Regions from separate parts of the Homo sapiens genome. Here region 2 is linked to region 1. The links come from fine-mapping of genetic effects on gene expression. A gene starts in region 1. The other region holds a variant in brackets. All regions are shown on one strand. Distances are between the middles of the regions.

Evidence for each region. PIP is the estimated chance that this variant, and not a neighbour inherited with it, causes the effect.
Region 2: its variant is fine-mapped to the expression of SNX11 in whole blood (INTERVAL, PIP above 0.99).

Annotation. Positions count from the first base shown.
Region 1 is chr17:48,103,494-48,111,493 of GRCh38, forward strand. It overlaps SNX11 (sorting nexin 11), which reads left to right and starts at 4,273. Exons shown (of 7, transcript NM_013323.3): 1 at 4,273-4,345. RefSeq lists silencers at 4,279-4,438, 5,973-6,146.
Region 2 is chr17:48,038,868-48,047,228 of GRCh38, forward strand. NFE2L1-DT (NFE2L1 divergent transcript) reads right to left here. Exons shown (of 2, transcript NR_170231.1): 2 at 8,014-8,103. It also overlaps a transcript of COPZ2 not described here. Among named protein-coding and RNA genes, the nearest start is that of NFE2L1-DT, 5.0 kb to the right of the region's middle. RefSeq lists enhancers at 47-96, 8,264-8,361. The variant T/C (reference allele first, on the strand shown) is at 4,096.

The DNA.
Region 1 (8,000 bases):
GTTTTTAACACCATGAAGGTCCGCGGCTTCATTGTTTAAGTCAGGGAGACCACAAACCCACCGGAAGGAATCAACTCCGGACACAAAGAGAGCAATTCTTCCTGAAACATTTGGGCTGGGTTTCTAGGAAGAAGCAAGTGAGAAGCAAGCATCTCCTCACTTCCTCCTGTAGTGTACTGTTTTTGACTGATGATGATGAGAAAATTAGTTGTAATGATAATTAGCTACTATTAATGAGTGCTTTTTTTGTTTTTTTTCCCTGAGGTGGAGTCTTGCACTGTCGCCCAGGCTGGAGTGCAATGGCAAGATCACGGCTCACTGCAACCTCCGCCTCCCGGGTTCATGCACTTCTCCTGCCTCAGCCTCCCAAGTAACTGGGATTACAAGTGCATGCCACCATGCACAGCTAATTTTTTTGTATTTTAGTAGAGACGGGGGTTTCACCATGTTGCCCAGGCTGGTCTTGAACTCCTGAGTTCAGGCATCCACCCGCCCAAAGTGCTAAGATTACAGGCGTGAGCCACCACTTCTGGTTTATTTTTTATTTTATTTTATTTATTTATTATTATTATTATTTTTTGAGACGGAGTCTAACTCTGTCACCCAGGCTGGAGTGCAGTGGCATGATCCGGTTCACTGCAACCTCCACCTCCCAGGTTCAAGCAATTATCCAGCCTTGGTCTCCCGAGTAGCTGGGATTACAGGTGCCCACCACCATGCCCAGCTAATTTTTTTGTTTCCCGAGACTGAGTCTTGCTCTGTCACCCAGGCTGGAGGGCAGTGGTGAGATCTCGGCTCACTGCAACCTCCACCTCCCGGGTTCAAGCAATTATCCAGCCTCAGTCTCCTGAGTAGTTGGGTTTACAGTCGCCCGCCACCGTGCCTGGCTAATTTTTGTAATTTTAGTAGAGGGAGGTTTCACCATGTTGGCCAGACTGGTCTTGAACTCCTGACCTCAAGTGGTCCCACTGCCTCCGCCTACCAAAGTGCTGGGATTACAGGTGTGAGCCACCGCACCCAGCCTTAATTTTTGTATTTTTAGTAGAGACGGGTTTTCACTGTGTTTTCAGGCTGGTCTTGAACTCCTAACCTTGTGATCCCCCCGTTGCAGCCTCCCAAAGTGCTGGCGTTACAAGTGTGAGCCACCACACCCGGCCTATTTTTTTTTTTTTTTTTTTTTGAGACAGGATGTTACTCTCTCTCCTAGGCTGAAGTGCAGTAGTGCAATCACGGTTCACTGTAGTCTCAACTTCCCAGGCCCAAGTCATCTTTCCCCCTCAGCCTCCTGAGTAGCTTTGAGCCACACCTTACTCAGCTAATTTTTTCTATTTTGTAGAGCCAGAGTCTTGTCACATTGTCCAGGTTGGTCTGGAACGCCTGGGCTCAAGCAGGCCTTGACCTGTCTCGGCCTCCCAAAGTGCTGGGATTACAGATGTGAGCCACCATGCCTGGCCATAAATTCTTGATTGATTTAATCTCATTTCTATCTAACACCCAAACCATATTTCTGTCTACATAAAATGCTGCCATCCCTAATTCCTTGTATTGAGCTGAATTCTGCTCCCCATGGAGATGCCACCTATTTTCCCTAATTCTGGCATCTGTAGCCACACAGTAAGCCTTATCTTTCTTTCATATGTTTCTTCTAATATTGAAGTTCAGCCATCATGTTCCCTGAGGTCTCTATTTAAATGTCATCATTTTCCTAAACTGTACATTACAGGGCAACAGTTTCAGATGTATCATATTTATTGTGTTAGTAAATTCTGGCTCTTATATGTGTGTTTCAAGGTGGAGAGGGCCATCACTGCCTTTGTCCTGTATACCATTCTTTTTTTTTTTTTTTTTTTTTTTTGAGACGGAGTCTCACTTTGTCACTAGGCTGGAGTGCAGTGGCATGATCTTGGCTCACTGAAGCCTCTGCCTCCCGGGTTTAAGTGATTCTCCTGCCTCAGTCTCCCGACTAGCTGGAATTACAATCACACACCACCAGATGGTCTCAATCTCTTGAGAGTTCAAGACCAGGCTGGGCAATATAGTGAGACCTCATCTATACAAATAATAATAAAAAATTAGTCGGGCATGGTGGCACACACCTGTGGTCCCAGCTACTTAGGAGGCTTGGGTGGCAGGATCACTTGAGCCCAGGAGGTTGAGGCTGTCTTAATATTAAGACATGTGAGGCTAGGCACGGTGGCTCATGCCTGTAATCCCAGCACTTTGGGAAGCCAAGGCGGGTGGATCATGAGGTCAGGAGTTCAAGACCAGCCTGACCAATATGGTGAAACCCCATCTCTACTAAAAATACAAAAATTAGCTGGGCATGGTGGCGCGTGCCTGTAATCCCAGCTAGTCAGTAGGCAGTTTCTTGAGACTTTCCTGATGAGATCAGTGATGAATTTAATAAATGTGATTTTTTTTTACATTGAATAAATGCATCAACATTGGCTGATCTGCATAACTCTGTACCAGTATTTTCTAAATGGCTTGACTCCCTATCACACTTAACCTTTAAGAAATGACTCCATCTCCAAGGTGGTGTGTACTTAAAAATAAATAAATAAACACTTCCAGTCTCGGCAACATAGGGAGACTCTATGTTGTATAAAATTTTAAAAACTTAAAAAATTATCTGTATAAAAATTTTAAAAATTAACCGAGTATGGTGGCACACGCCTGCGGTCCCAGCAGCTCCAAGGGCTGAGGAGGGAGGATGGCTTGAGCCCTGGAGGTTGAGGCTGCAGTGAGCTGTGATCCTGCCACTGCACTCCAGCCTGGGCAACAGAGCAGGACCCTGTCTCAAAAAAGCAAAGAAAAGTTACCATTTGTTGAATTTGGGTAGTATCAAAGAAGAGTATTCAGAATTGTTTGAGAAGGCTAAAAATACTCTTCCTTTTCTCAACTACATAGCTATATAAGGCTGAATTTTCTTAATGTACCAAAACAACAGAGCACAACAGAGAAAGGGGAAGCACATAGGAGAACCCAGCTATCTTCCTTTTTATTTATTTATTTTTTACAATGGAGTCTCCCAGGCTGGAGTGTAATGGCGCGATCTTGTCTCACTGCAACCTCCGATTCCTGGGTTCAAGCAATCCCCCTGTGTCAGTCTCCTGAATAGCTGGGATTACAGGTGCCCATGACCACGCCCAGCTAATTTTTGTAGTTTTAGTGGAGACGGGGTTTCACCATGTTGGCCAGGCTGGTCTCGAACTCCTGACCTCAGGTAATCCACCCGCCTCCGCCTCCCAAAGTGGTGGAAGTACAGGCGTGAGGCACTGTGCCCGGCCCCTTTCTTTTCTTTCCTCTCTTTTCTTCCTTTTAGCTCTCTCTCTTTTTTTCAGACAGGGTCTTGCTCTGCAGTGATCAGGGCTCACTGCAGCCTCGAACCCCTGGGTTCAAGCCATCCTCCTGTCTCAGCCTCCCGAGTAGCTGGGACTACAGGCGCGTGTCACCATGCCCGGCTAATTTTTAAAATATTTTGCAGAGGCGAGGGTCTCCCTAAGTTGGTAGGGCGTGTCTCAAGCCTGGCCTCAAGCGATCCTCCCGCCTCGGCCTCCCTAATAGTATTGGGATTACAGGCGTGAGCCACCGCGCTAGGCTTGCTGAAATTATCTTTAAATAAGTTGTTAAAAGACCACCAACACATTGAACGGCTTTCTCTTGCTCCCTAGCTGCATGATATTGCTTCGAGTTTGTTTCGGTGTGAGCAATCTGAGTCGCCGGACCCTCTCGAGTCTGACTTTCACTCTGACAATCGGTCCGTGGCTTTACGAATCTGAATCGGAGTCCCCTTGATAGCTCCGCTGGGGAACAGCAAACTACGAGGTTCAAATGGTGGCTCTCGGGACTTAGTGAGGATCCAGGGATGTGGGCTTCCTAAAGCCCCGAACCTCCCACACTGCAGACTATCCCTCGCATAGCGAGAACAAGAGTAACAACCCCCTTACACCCCTCTGCTCCCGGGACCCACTGGCTGCCCGTCGCTGACGCCCCCTGGCCGCTGATTGGCTTCCCCTGACAGTGGGCGGAACGCGGCCCCGGATTGGATATCCATTCGCCGTCCCTCACCCGGCACCTGCGTGCACTCTCCGGCGTCCCAAGTGAGTGGAGGGGGGATCCCGACTCCAGTCCGGGGCCTTGGCCAGCGGAGCCGCGCTATTCGGAAGCGGGAATCCCACTCAGAGCCCGGGCCTGTAGGGGCGGGGCGTCCCGGGCACCCGGGATTGGGGCGTCTCCCGTCGTGCACCGGGGCACCGGCGACTCACCCGGAAGGAGAAGCCGTGATCTGGCTATATGGTGGGGCGCGGGCGGTGTCGCTGTGGGGAGCTGGTGCTGTTCTCAGGTGAGAGGGCGTGGGCGGGGCCTGGGGAGTGGGTGCTGCTCTCCTGTGAGGGGGCGTGGGCTTGAGCGTCAGTAGTGGCACTCGGGATGGTGGCATCGCTTTACATCCTAGGGAGGGACTCTCTTACCACCCGGGATTAAGGCAAGGGCTTGCTCGGGATCCAAGAAAGGAAACCCGGCTTTTCAGTTTACCTTCAAAGTGTATCTTTCACTTCCTACCCCCCAAGCTTAATCGGAAAGAAAGAAGGACCATGTGGACCTTTCGGTCCTAGTTTGTTGAGAATGGAGAAAGAGTGGCCGTAGTAAAAGACTCTGGGGACATTTACTTAAATGGCTAAGACTGGGGGCAATGGCGAGTATTTTACGTGGACACGGGAGACTTGGCGGTAGATTGTGGTCGCCTTTGTTACTTACCTTCCAAGTGAAAGGCGTACGATTAGAGATGGACAAAAAGATGGAGCATAACTGCTTGGTTGAGATCACACAGAGCTTGGTCAGAACTGGGAGCTTCCTCTGTTTAGTACCTGTGATATTTATAATTGGAGCGAGAGCTTTTTGAATTGCTTTCTGCCATCTGGCACTAAAGGCTCAAGATTGAGTAAGAAGGGACGGTAGTCTCAGTAGTTCCATCTACTTTTATCACCTGATTTGTTTCTTAACCTGTCTCTTGAAGTTGTTTAAATGGGAGAGAAAATAAATGGTGAGACTAAAGCCTTGCATTGTTACTATATTAGAAAGCTTTACGATGAATCTACTTTGTAAACAGCAAACAATCGGGTACTCACCAGAGCTACTGGTGCTGGTACAGGTGAAGAAAGTAAAGGAAACTTCAGATGTGGTTGAAAGGGCCCAGAAAATGTAGTTAACACTAAGTTATGTAACTAGCTATGGTCACTGACTCTAGCCTTATTTGGATGAAGTACAGATCCATCTCCCAGATCAGAGAACTAAAGTTAGGAACTTCCTGCTGCTTCTCCAGAGGCAGAACTGAGCTTTTTCTTTTGAGGAGTGGTATCTGTGGGGAGGAATCTAATGGAGAAGAGTGGTTGCTAGAAATTACTACTTGGTGTCTAGGTTTTTGTATTTGTTCCAGTGTTTATTTGTTTGTTTTTTGAGACAGGGTCTTGCTCTGTCGCCCAGGCTGGAGTGCAGTGGTGTGATCTTGGCTCATTGCAGACTCCGCCTCCTGGGTTCCAGCAATTCTCATGCCTCAGTCTCCCGAGTAGCTGGGAGTACAGGCCTGTGCCACCATGCCCAGCTAATTTTTGTATTTTTAGTAGAGACGAAGTTTTGCCTTGTTGGCCAGGCTGTTCTTGAACTCCTGGCCTCAAGTGTTCTGCCCGCCTCAGCTTCCCAAAGTGTTGGATTACAGGCGTGAGCCACTGGGCCAGCCCAGTGTTTTTAAGGACAGTTACAACTGAAACTTTCTTTTTTTTTTTTTGAGACGGAGTCTCACTCTGTTGCCAGGATGGAGTGCAGTGGTGCGATCTCGGCTCACTGCAACCTCCACCTCCTGGGTTCAACTGATTCTCCTGCCTCAGTCTCCCGAGTAGCTGGGACTACAGGCACGCGCCACCATGCCCAGCTAATTTTTGTATTTTTAGTAAAGAAGGGGTTTCACCATGTTGGCCAGGATGGTCTCAATCTCTTGACCTCGTATTTCGCCCGCCTCGGCCTCCCAAAGTGCTGGGATTACAGACGTGAGCCACCGCACCCGGCCCATCTGGAGGTTTTTTGTTTTTTGTGTTTTTTTTTTTGACAACGGAGTCTTGCACTGTCGCCTGGGCTGGAGTGCAGTGGCGCGATCTCGGCTCACTGCAACCTCCGCCTCCCGGGTTCAAGTGATTCTCCTGCTTCAGTCTCCCAAGTAGGTGGGATTACAGGCGCCTGCCACCACGCCCGCTAATTTTTTTTATTTTTAGTAGAGACGGAGTTTCATTACGTTGGCCAGGCTGGTGTCTGGAGGTTTTTAAAAAGCCAGTTCATAGCTATTTGTTTCTGAGTGGTATTGGCCCCAAAGGAAAGAAGAATTTCTTCATGAAGGTAGTGCAGGGCCCTATACAAACTTCCTGAGACCAAGGGTATGATGATCATTTCGTTCCTAAATTATGGTCCTGAATTTGACAAACCTTTTTCAAGGCACAAAAGATGTATGAGCTCCACTGAGTGGATGACTGTGATTTCCTTGTCATCGTCTTTCCCGTTGTTAGTTTTGTTTAAAGACACTTCAGAATATTTAACTCTCTGCTCCTGTGCTGGCAGTTTATCCAATGCCTGCAAAGAGAAGAGAAAAAAAAAACTTAAGGAGGTTCATTGTTCACAGCAAATAGGTCTGCTCTTTTTGGTCTCAGACATTTGACTGATATCTGGAATGTTATATATGGGTTGTTATGGAATTGGAATTTCCCACCTTTCAGTTCAGGACCCCTTGGAGGTGGTGGCTGCATCAGATAAAAATCAGATTGTCAGCAAGAATACCATTTAAGATGGTACTGAAATCACAAAACCTTAGGTTTGCTCAATATTGTGTAGCCCAATTTTGTCATGGACCATGCAGCTTCGTTTCTGCATGCAGTGTTTGTCTGTGGAGATACTTCTGGTATATTGGAGAGAATTGAAAAAGTGGTTTGCTTTGCTAATTTCATGGTGTAAATGAGTTCCCCTTCTTTTGAAATGTTAGCCTTGTGTTAGCAAAACATAAAATAGAAGGAAACTCATTACACAGTGTTCTAATGGTAAGGCAGAACTAATAAGAGAATGTGTTTAAAATTAATTGTGGGACTGTAAAAATGAGTGGGTATGTGAATGAGTACGGGATGGGGGAGGAGAGGGAGGGCTTAGAGATATTAGAGATAGTCTTGTTTTCCCAGGAGCCAGCCTGGATCATTTGTTGGCAGTACATATTGGCTGAAGTCAGTTTTCATTTCAAGGTAAATTGGAAAGGGAAATTAAACCTTATTGTTTCTCTCTTAAGAGAGAAGGGGGTGCAGGCGGCAGCCAGGGTGGATGCTGTTGGAATAGTTGTAGAAGTAACAAGATTAGTGCTGTATTTTAACAGAAGGTGACATCATGGGCCCCATTGGACTTGAGTAACCCCGTGCTGCAGCCTTCATGGTCCCCTTGTCGGAGTGGGTGATGTCGCTATACACGTGAACTGCCACATTGGGGAAAATCAGGGGCTGAGGCTTTAATGAATCTTTACAAAGGAGCAGAACGCATCCTGAGTCGACCTGTGCAGCTGTGGGGTGCTTGGACAGAAGTACAAACCGGATGGCATGTCAGGAGAGGAAGTAATTAGAACAATTGGCTCGGGTTCCAGAGTATGGATTGGATAAGGGGAAGGTCCCAACTGGGCAACCCACTCAGGTGCTCCTTGGAGTGCTCTAGCTCTATGATTCACCTGTGGGGAGTTGACTGGTTGTTAGTGAGACTGGGAGAAATGCAGAAGCATTGGTGTTTGTGGGGACTTGGTTGTCTCTAAACAGCCGGGAGGGGGTGCTGTTAGGCTCGCTTTCAAAGCTGTGATCTGGCAGGGCGTGGTGGCTCCCGCCTGTAATCCCAGCACTTTGGGAGGCCGAGGAGGGCGGATCACTTGAGGTCAGGAGTTCGAGACCAGCCTGACCAACATGGAGAAACCCCGTCTCTACTAAAAATAC
Region 2 (8,361 bases), 64 kb before region 1:
CCTCCTGACAGCCACCATATCTGACTTGATAGGTCTCTCCTGTCACATTCTCTCAGTTCCTATTTCTTTCTTTCATTGCACTTTTTTCAATCTCTAAATATTATTTTTACTAATATTGCTTGTTTGAGACACGGTCTCACTCTGTTGCCCAGGCTGGAGTGCAGTGACTCGATCTGGGCTCACTGCAGCCTCAACCTCCTGGGCTCAGGCAATCCTCCCATCTCAGTCTCCCGAGTAGCTGGGACCACTGGTGCATGCAACCACTCCCAGGTAATTTTTTATTTTTTTATTTTTTTTATTTTTGTAGAAACAAGGTCTCAAGTCTGGGCTCAATGGCTCACATCTGTAATCCCAGCACTTTGGGAGGCTGAGGTGGGCAGAAGGCTTGAGCCCAGGAGTTCCAGACCAGCCTGGGCAACATGGTAAGATCTAGTCTCTACTAAAACTACAAAGAAATTAGCCAGGTAGGGTGGTGTGACCTGTAGTCCCAGCTACTCAGAAGGCTGAGGTGGGAGAATCACCCGAGTCTGGGGGTTCAAGGCTGCAGAGCCATGATCATGCCACTGTGCTCCAGCCTGGGCAATGGGAGTGAGAATCTGTTTCAAAAAAAAAAAAAAGAAGAAGAAGAAGAAGAGAAAAAGAAAGGAAGAGGAGGAGGAGGGGGAGGAGGGTGATCATGATCAAGGTCTCACTATGTTGCCCAGGCTGGTCTTGAACGCCTAGGCTCAAGTGATCCTCCCACCTCAGCCTCCCAAAGTGTTGGGATACAGGCGTGAACCACCATTCCCAGCCTTTACTAGTTTGTTTATAAGTGTTCCTTCTCCCCGCCCAGACTTTGAGCCCTGCAAGAACCAATGAATGTGACTTTTTGTTTGTTTGTTTTTTTGTTTTGAGACAGGGTCTTGCTCTATCACCCAGGCTGGAGTACAGTGGTGTGATCATAGTTCACCGCAGCCTCAAATTCCCAGTGTCGGCCGGGCACGGTGGCTCACGCCTGTAATTCCAGCTCTTTGGAAGGCCGAGACAGGCGGATCACGAGGTCAGGAGTTTGAGACCAGCCTGGCCAACATGGTGAAACCCCATCTCTACTAAAAATACAAAAAAATTAGCCGGGGGTGGTGGCAGGTGCCTGTAATCCCAGCTACTCGGGAGGCTGAGGCAGGAGAATCACTTGAACCTGGGAGGTGGAGGTTGCAGTGACCCGAGACCGCACTACAGCACTCCAGCCTGGCCAAGAGAGCGAGAACCTGCTACCCACCCACCCACCCACACACACACACACACACAAACAACTCCCAGGATCAAGCCATTCTCCTGTCTCAGTCTCCTGAGTAGGTGGGACGATACACACGTGCCACCATGCCTGGTTATTTATTATTATTTTTTTTAAAGGCAGGGTCTTGCTGTGTTGTCCAGGCAGGTCTTGAACTCCTGGGATCAAGCCCTCCTCCTGCCTCGGCCTCCCAAAGCCCTGAGATTACAGGTGTGACCCACCTCACCTGGCCAATTATGTTTGTCTTGTTCACTGTGGAATCCCTAGTGTTTCTTACAAGGCTTGGTGACAGATTTTTTTTTTTTTTTTTTGAGACGGAGTCTTGCTCCGTCACCAGGCTGGAGTGCAGTGGCGAGATCTCGGCTCACTGCAACCTCCGCCTCACGGGTTCCAGTGATTCTCCTGCCTCAGCCTCCCGAGTAGTTGGGACTACAGGTGCACACCACCACGCCCAGCTAATTTTTGTATTTTTAGTAGAGACAGGGTTTCACCATGTTGGCCAGGATGGTCTCGATCTCTTGACCTTGTGATCTGCTTGCCTCGGCCTCCCAAAGTGCTGGGATTACAGGCATGAGCCACTGCACCTGGCCGATGACAGATATTTAATAAGCATTTGTGAAGTAAATGAATAAAGGAATTCAGGATGAGGGAGATCATGTATAAATATTCACAAATACCAAATTTTAACTAATAATAATTAAAATGTACCTATCAATGATACCATATTGGCTGGGTGTGGTGGCTCATACCTGTAATCCCAGCACTTTGAGAGGCCAAGGCGGGCAGATCACTTGAGACCAGGAGTTCGAGACCAGCCTGGCCAACATGGTGAAACCCTGATTCTACTAAAAACACACAAAAATCAGCCAGGCATGGTGGCGAGTGCCTGTAGTCCCAGCTACTTGGGAGGTGAAGGCAGGAGAATCATTTGCACCCAGGAGGCAGAGGCTGTAGTGAGCCAAGATCACACCACTGCAGCCTCAGCAACAGAGCAAGACTCTATCTCCAAAAAAAAAAAAAAAAAAAAGACAACATATTTTATGTGCTGTACAAATATTTATTGAGTGCTTAGTATGTACCAGATATTTTTCTAGCCACTGGGACACAATAGTAGACAAAAGAAAAATTTTGCTCTCATGGAACTTACAATCAAGTGTTTGTGTATGTACATGCGTGCGTTTCTGTGCAAGATATAATACACAAATAAATGGGAAAAGTAGATATTATATGAGTTGGGGATAAGTGCTGCAAAGAAAAATAGAGCAGAAATGGGATGTGGAATGTGAGGGGTAAGGGACAGGCAAGCCAGAAAGCCATTTTCATAGTCCTCTGAGAAAACCTTTAACAAGGTGACATTTGAACAAAGAGCTAAAGGAAAGGAGGAAGCAGGCCATGCAGACATCTGAGGAAGCATCTACTGACCCTCCCTATATGATGACTTAGAAGGCACATCTGAACCTTTCTTGCAGGCTATCAGTTATAATAGGGAACATAATGACACTATTTGATAACAGCAGCCAGGGAAAAGACCCAGCATTTGGGCATTTTATTTCTTCGGATTCCAGATCATCAGAAGTTATGTCAATGGTCATGCTGGCTGGGTATGTTATTTCTAAAAAATACTGATTTGGTTATTTTGATGTCTTAATATTTCTGTGAGCTAGTCCATTTTTTTTTTTTTTTTGGCTCATATTTACAAGGACAGCACCAAAAAGCCTCCAGGAGCATTTCTCAGCCTCTGTTTGGCTATGGTACCCACTATGAAAGACCAGCAGCCTCCAGAAGGGACAGAGGAAGACCTGGGAAGATAGGGGACTTAGGGGGCTGGCTCCATAGGGGAGGTGGGGAAGGAGTCAGTTATACACGTTAGGGATGGGAAGGCACTGGAGAGGGGCCAAGGGGATAGGAATGAGAGAAGGCTGGGGAAGGAAGCTTAGGAACCACAAAGTTCTCATCACCCCCACATCTATCACTGTTGTTGCTTTTTCTTTTTCTTTTTTTCTTTTTTTTGAGAAGGAGTTTCACTCTTGTTGCCCAGGCTGGAGTGCAATGGGGTGATATTGGCTCACTGCAATCTCCGCCTCCCAGGTTCAGGCGATTCTCCTGTCTCAGTCTCCTGAGTAGCTGGGATTACAGGTATGCGCCACCACACCCAGCTAATTTTTTTTATTTTTAGTAGAGACAGGGTTTCACTATGTTGTTTGGCTGGTCTTGAACTCCTGACCTCAGGTGATCCGCCTGCCTTGGCCTCCCAAAGTGCTGGGATTACAGGCGTGAACCACCGCGCCTGGCCTTGTTGTTCCTCTTCTTAAAATCTCTTTACATCTTTTCTTTTTTTTGAAATGGAGTCTCACTCTGTCGCCCAGGCTGGAGTGCAGTAGCACGATCTCGGCTCACTGCAACCTCTGCCTCCCGGGTTCAAGCAATTCTCCTGCCTCAGCCTCCCAAGTAGCAGGGATTACAGGTGCGTGCCACCATGCCCGGCTAATTTTTGTATTTTTAGTAGAGACGGGGTTTCACCATGTTAGCCAGGTTGTTCTCCAACTCCTGACCTTAAGTGATCTGCCCACCTTGGCCTCCCAAAGTGCTGGGATTATAGGCGTAAGCCACCGTGCCTGGCCCATAAAATCTCTTTACATCTTAGTTTAGTGGTGAATAAGTAAATTCAGAGCCAAGTTCAACTTTTCAAGGACAAGATTCTCCCCAATGATAACCCCTCCCCAAACTCCTTCAACAGAGACCCCAGAACTTCTTTCTCTCCATGACAACCGCTTCCCCACACATCCTGAAGTGCACCTTTAATGCAGTTTCACATAAACATG[T/C]GAGCTATGTGTGTCCAGTATTGGGACAGTGTCTTCCACAGAGCATGGCCCTAAGAGGACTTTCCAGTTTAAGGCTGGCAGCACATGAGAAGCATGCACGTGCAGCAGCAGACTCGGCAGGAGAGCCTCCCCAGCTCGAGGAAGCCAAGTTGGGTTCAAAAAGAATGCAGCCTTCATGTTTCTCTGCCCTCTACTCCCTTCGGGTAGGCACAGTAGGATGGAGAGGTGGGCTGTGCACATCCCTACCCAGCTGGAACCTGTGAAGTAGTGCACTCAGAATTGGTCCCTGCCCTTTGGAGTCCCAGGAGGCAGGTGATTCAAAGCAGGTTCTCCTCTGGGCCTTGGTATAGCTTGAAGGGGAGACCATTTCATTTCCTCTGAGTCACCCTCCTGCTGCCACATTTCTGTGCTGTCTGTCCTAGGATTTCAGCATCTGTTCTTATGTGACGAGAAGAAACAGCTCCCTTGGGTACCAGCCTCTCTCTATCCCTCCTGCTTAATGTCAAGAGGGGGAGGTGTGTGTGGAATATGAGGCGTGGAAGTGTGTACTGGTGGCATCCTCTAGAGAAAACTAAAGCTTCCATGCTCTGTCTGTAGGATGGGTTTCTAGTAGACCATTCTAAGGACAGCTCTCATTTCTTCATCGCCTTTGGCTTTCTCTGAGATAAAGTTGTAGGGTGGGTGGAGAGAGGATTATTCAAGACAGGGCCTTATACTCAGCTCTTCCTCCAGGCATGAATGGCTTTATACACATGACCTGATTTTTAAGATTTATGAATATGTACATTGTTATCTCCATTTAGCTCGGGATGGCCCAACTAGTAAGAAACAGAGCCAGATTTTCGAACCCACCTATGAGTCCAAAACATCCACTCCTCCTACCTCTTAATGGCAGCTCCTTGAGTGTGACATGTCACACAGAGCTATATGAAGAACACTACCTGGTATTGTTTGAGACAACATAGCAAGACATACAGGACAGTTGAACTCAGCTTCAAAAAATGTTACACTAAGACACTAATGAACAATGAGGCATTTTCATTGTAGAGGTGAAGAAAGAACATTTTAGGGTTGAGAATGAGCACACCCTAAAAGTCAAACGGGCCGGGTGCAGTGGCTCACGCCTGTAATCCCAGCACTTTGGGAGGCTGAGGTGGGCAGATCACTTGAGGTCAGGAGTTTGAGACCAGCCTGGCCAACATGGCAAAACCCTGTCTCTACTAAAAATACAAAAATTAGCCAAGCGTGGTGGTGTGCACCTTTAATACCAGCCACTCAGGAGGCTGAAGCAGGAGAATCGCTTGAACTGGGGAGGCAGAGGTTGCAGTGAGCTGAGATGGTGTCACTGCACTCCAGCCTGGACCACAGAGCGACTCCATCTCAAAAAAAAAAGTCAGATAATCATTCTAGTCTGTGTTCCCGTATTACCACAATCTTTTGCTTTTTTTTTTTTTTTTTTTTTTTTACCCCAATGTGGATTCTTGCTCCAACCTAGTGATTCTCTACTCTGGCTGTGCATAAGAATCACCTGAAGAGCTTTTACAAAATACTGATGTCCAATTCTGCTCTGGGCAGCTGTTTTAATTGGTGTGGGGTGGGACCTGGGCATTGGTATTTCTTACGAGCTACCCACCTGGGTGATTCTAATATGCAGCCAGGATTGAGAAGCAATCTTCTAAGAGTGTGGTAGTGGTGCATAGGAAAGAGGCTGGCTTGCAGGAGAGCTTTACTTTTTGGTGGTTTAATGGTAACAAGCTTGCTGATGATGTTTACCATATAAGAGAGAGGGCCATATGTCCGGATTTGCCAGAAAACTAATTGATTTCTTTGCAAAACATGCTAACATTTAGTATTGACATGATGTATTCCTACCATCTCTCAGGACTGTAAGGAAATCTCAGGCAATCATCTATCTAATCTATTCCCCTGGATTAGATGAGGTTACAGAGTAAGAAATACTTATATGGATTAGCAAAACTTAAAGACATGTTTTTCTTTTTATTATTTTTTTTGAGACAGGGTCTTACTCTGTTGCCCAGACTGGAGTGCAATGGCGCAATCACAGCTTACTGCACCCTCAACCTCCCCAGGATCGGGTGATCTTTCCACCTCAGCCTCCCCACTAGCTAGGACTACAGGCATGAACCACCACGCCTGGCTAATTTTTGTATTTTTTTTGTAGAGATGGGTTTTCACTATGTTGGCCAGGCTGGTCTCAAACTCCTGGCTCAAGTGATCTGCCCACCTGGGCCTCTCGAAGTGCTGGGGTTACAGGTGTGAGCCACTGTGCCTGGCCTTAGAGACATTTTTAGAGGAAAGATAATGGACAACCAGAATGGCAGAAAGCCTGGGTTTCCCTTTTAGGGAAAAAGCAATTTCACTGTTCCAGAAGAAATCAGAGCCCCAGCCAGCCTGCCCTCCCACAGCCCCTTCTCTGAGGATTCCTGGCATGTGTCATCCTCCAGGGATGACTGCAGGATGGATGTGGCTGTTGGCGGCAGCAGCAGCTTTTCCTACCAGGGAAGCTGGGTCGGTAGACACTACACTGCTATTCCTGGGGTGGGGGTGGGGATTTCCGTGTATGTTTTATAGTTAGCTGGCCCCAAATCCGTGTGCTTTAGACCTAACCCTCTTCTCGGCTTCCACTGCCTTCTTCTCTCTCCTGCCCAGCCTGGAGTCGCAGGGGCAAGGCCTAGTTTTACAATGGCTGCCAGCCTTTCCCTTAGGGAGCCACATGCATGCGCTCACTTTTTCCAGTGGTCTTCTCAGTCTGATTTAATGGATATACCGGGACTGATGACACATCAGCATGGGATCCTTCTTTTGCTTCTTGGGTAACTGTCCTATTAACAGCTGTCCCAGGCAAAGGGAGGGGGAGAGTGTTGGGGGAAAGGAGGGGGTGGCTTCCTGGGTGAAGAAGGACACACCCTGGGTTTTACAAGGTTAATCAGCAGGTTCTGGGAAAGCTTGCACCTGCTCAGACTTGATCTGGAACTCTAGACAGAATGGAAGACAGTCTTTCTGTCTCCACTCCCTTCCATGGAGCATCAAATATCCTGGGCGCCCACACCCTGCCAGGCCTAGGCCTGCTGTTGCGACTGAGTTTGTCTCTACACCTTTACTCTCTTCGGCCCTTGCAACTCTTTCCCTTTTTCTGCCCACCTTTGTGAAATGGCTAAGCAGGAAACTCCACAGATAAACGATTGTCCAGTTTTAGTTTGAACTGTTAGGACTGAAAATTGTTCTGTATTTTTCTGTCAAAAAAAGACCAACTTTAGTATGCTCTTTTCACCTTCTCAAAATTGTCTTGTAGTTAAACACTGTAGTTGAGCCTTTATATCTCTCAATTTTATGTTTTGTTTTGTTGAGGAAGCATCTCACTGTTGCCCAGACTGGCACCATCATAGCTCACTGCAGCCTCAATCTCCCAGCTCAAGAAATCCTCCCACCTCAGCCTCCTGAGTAGTTGGGACTATAGATGTGTGGCACCAAGCCCAGCTTGTTTTTTTGTAGCGACGGGGGTCTCACTATGCTGCCCAGGCTGGTCAAGCAATCCTCCCGCCTCGGCCTCCCAAGGTGCTACTGTGAGCCACTGCGCCGGGCCCAGTTCTATGTTTAAAATACTTCCTTCTCAACCTTATTTATTTTTAGAGTTGATGGCCACACCTAAATATTCCTCCTTTCTTATACAATACCAGTCTTTATCTTCATTGTCTCACTACTTCGGGGACTGAATGGTCTCCTATTTTATTGTTAACATGCCATATCCTTCAAAACTGTACATCCTCCAAGGTGTGGTTAATTTCTGCTTTTAACAGGAAAATCAGAGGCCTGCCTGCTTGAGTCCCCCTTCAAGTACTCAGTATTTGAGTGTCTACTAAGTTATAACAGTTAACGCACAAAATTCTAGTCCTCATGTTGTTTATACTCAGGTATTTATTGGGAGACACGCGTCAGTAGTCCCTGATAAATGGAAAGATCGCTTGAGTCCAGGAGTTCCAGTCCAGCCTAGAATAGGTAAAACATGCTCTCTGAATTAGTCTTTGAAACTGGTAAACTAGCTCAGAAGTTTTTTTAAGAATTCCATGAGTGGTTTGCTGGTGTACGTTTATTATATGCAGTGAAAGTACTTAATCTGCAAACCACCCCAAATTAAGCCCCTAACTCGCAAGCACAAAATGGACTCGATTATTTACTGAGTTATCAGTTGGCCTTGTCCTTAGTTGTACAGGGACTAATGACTCACCTATAAATAATGGGCTCTTC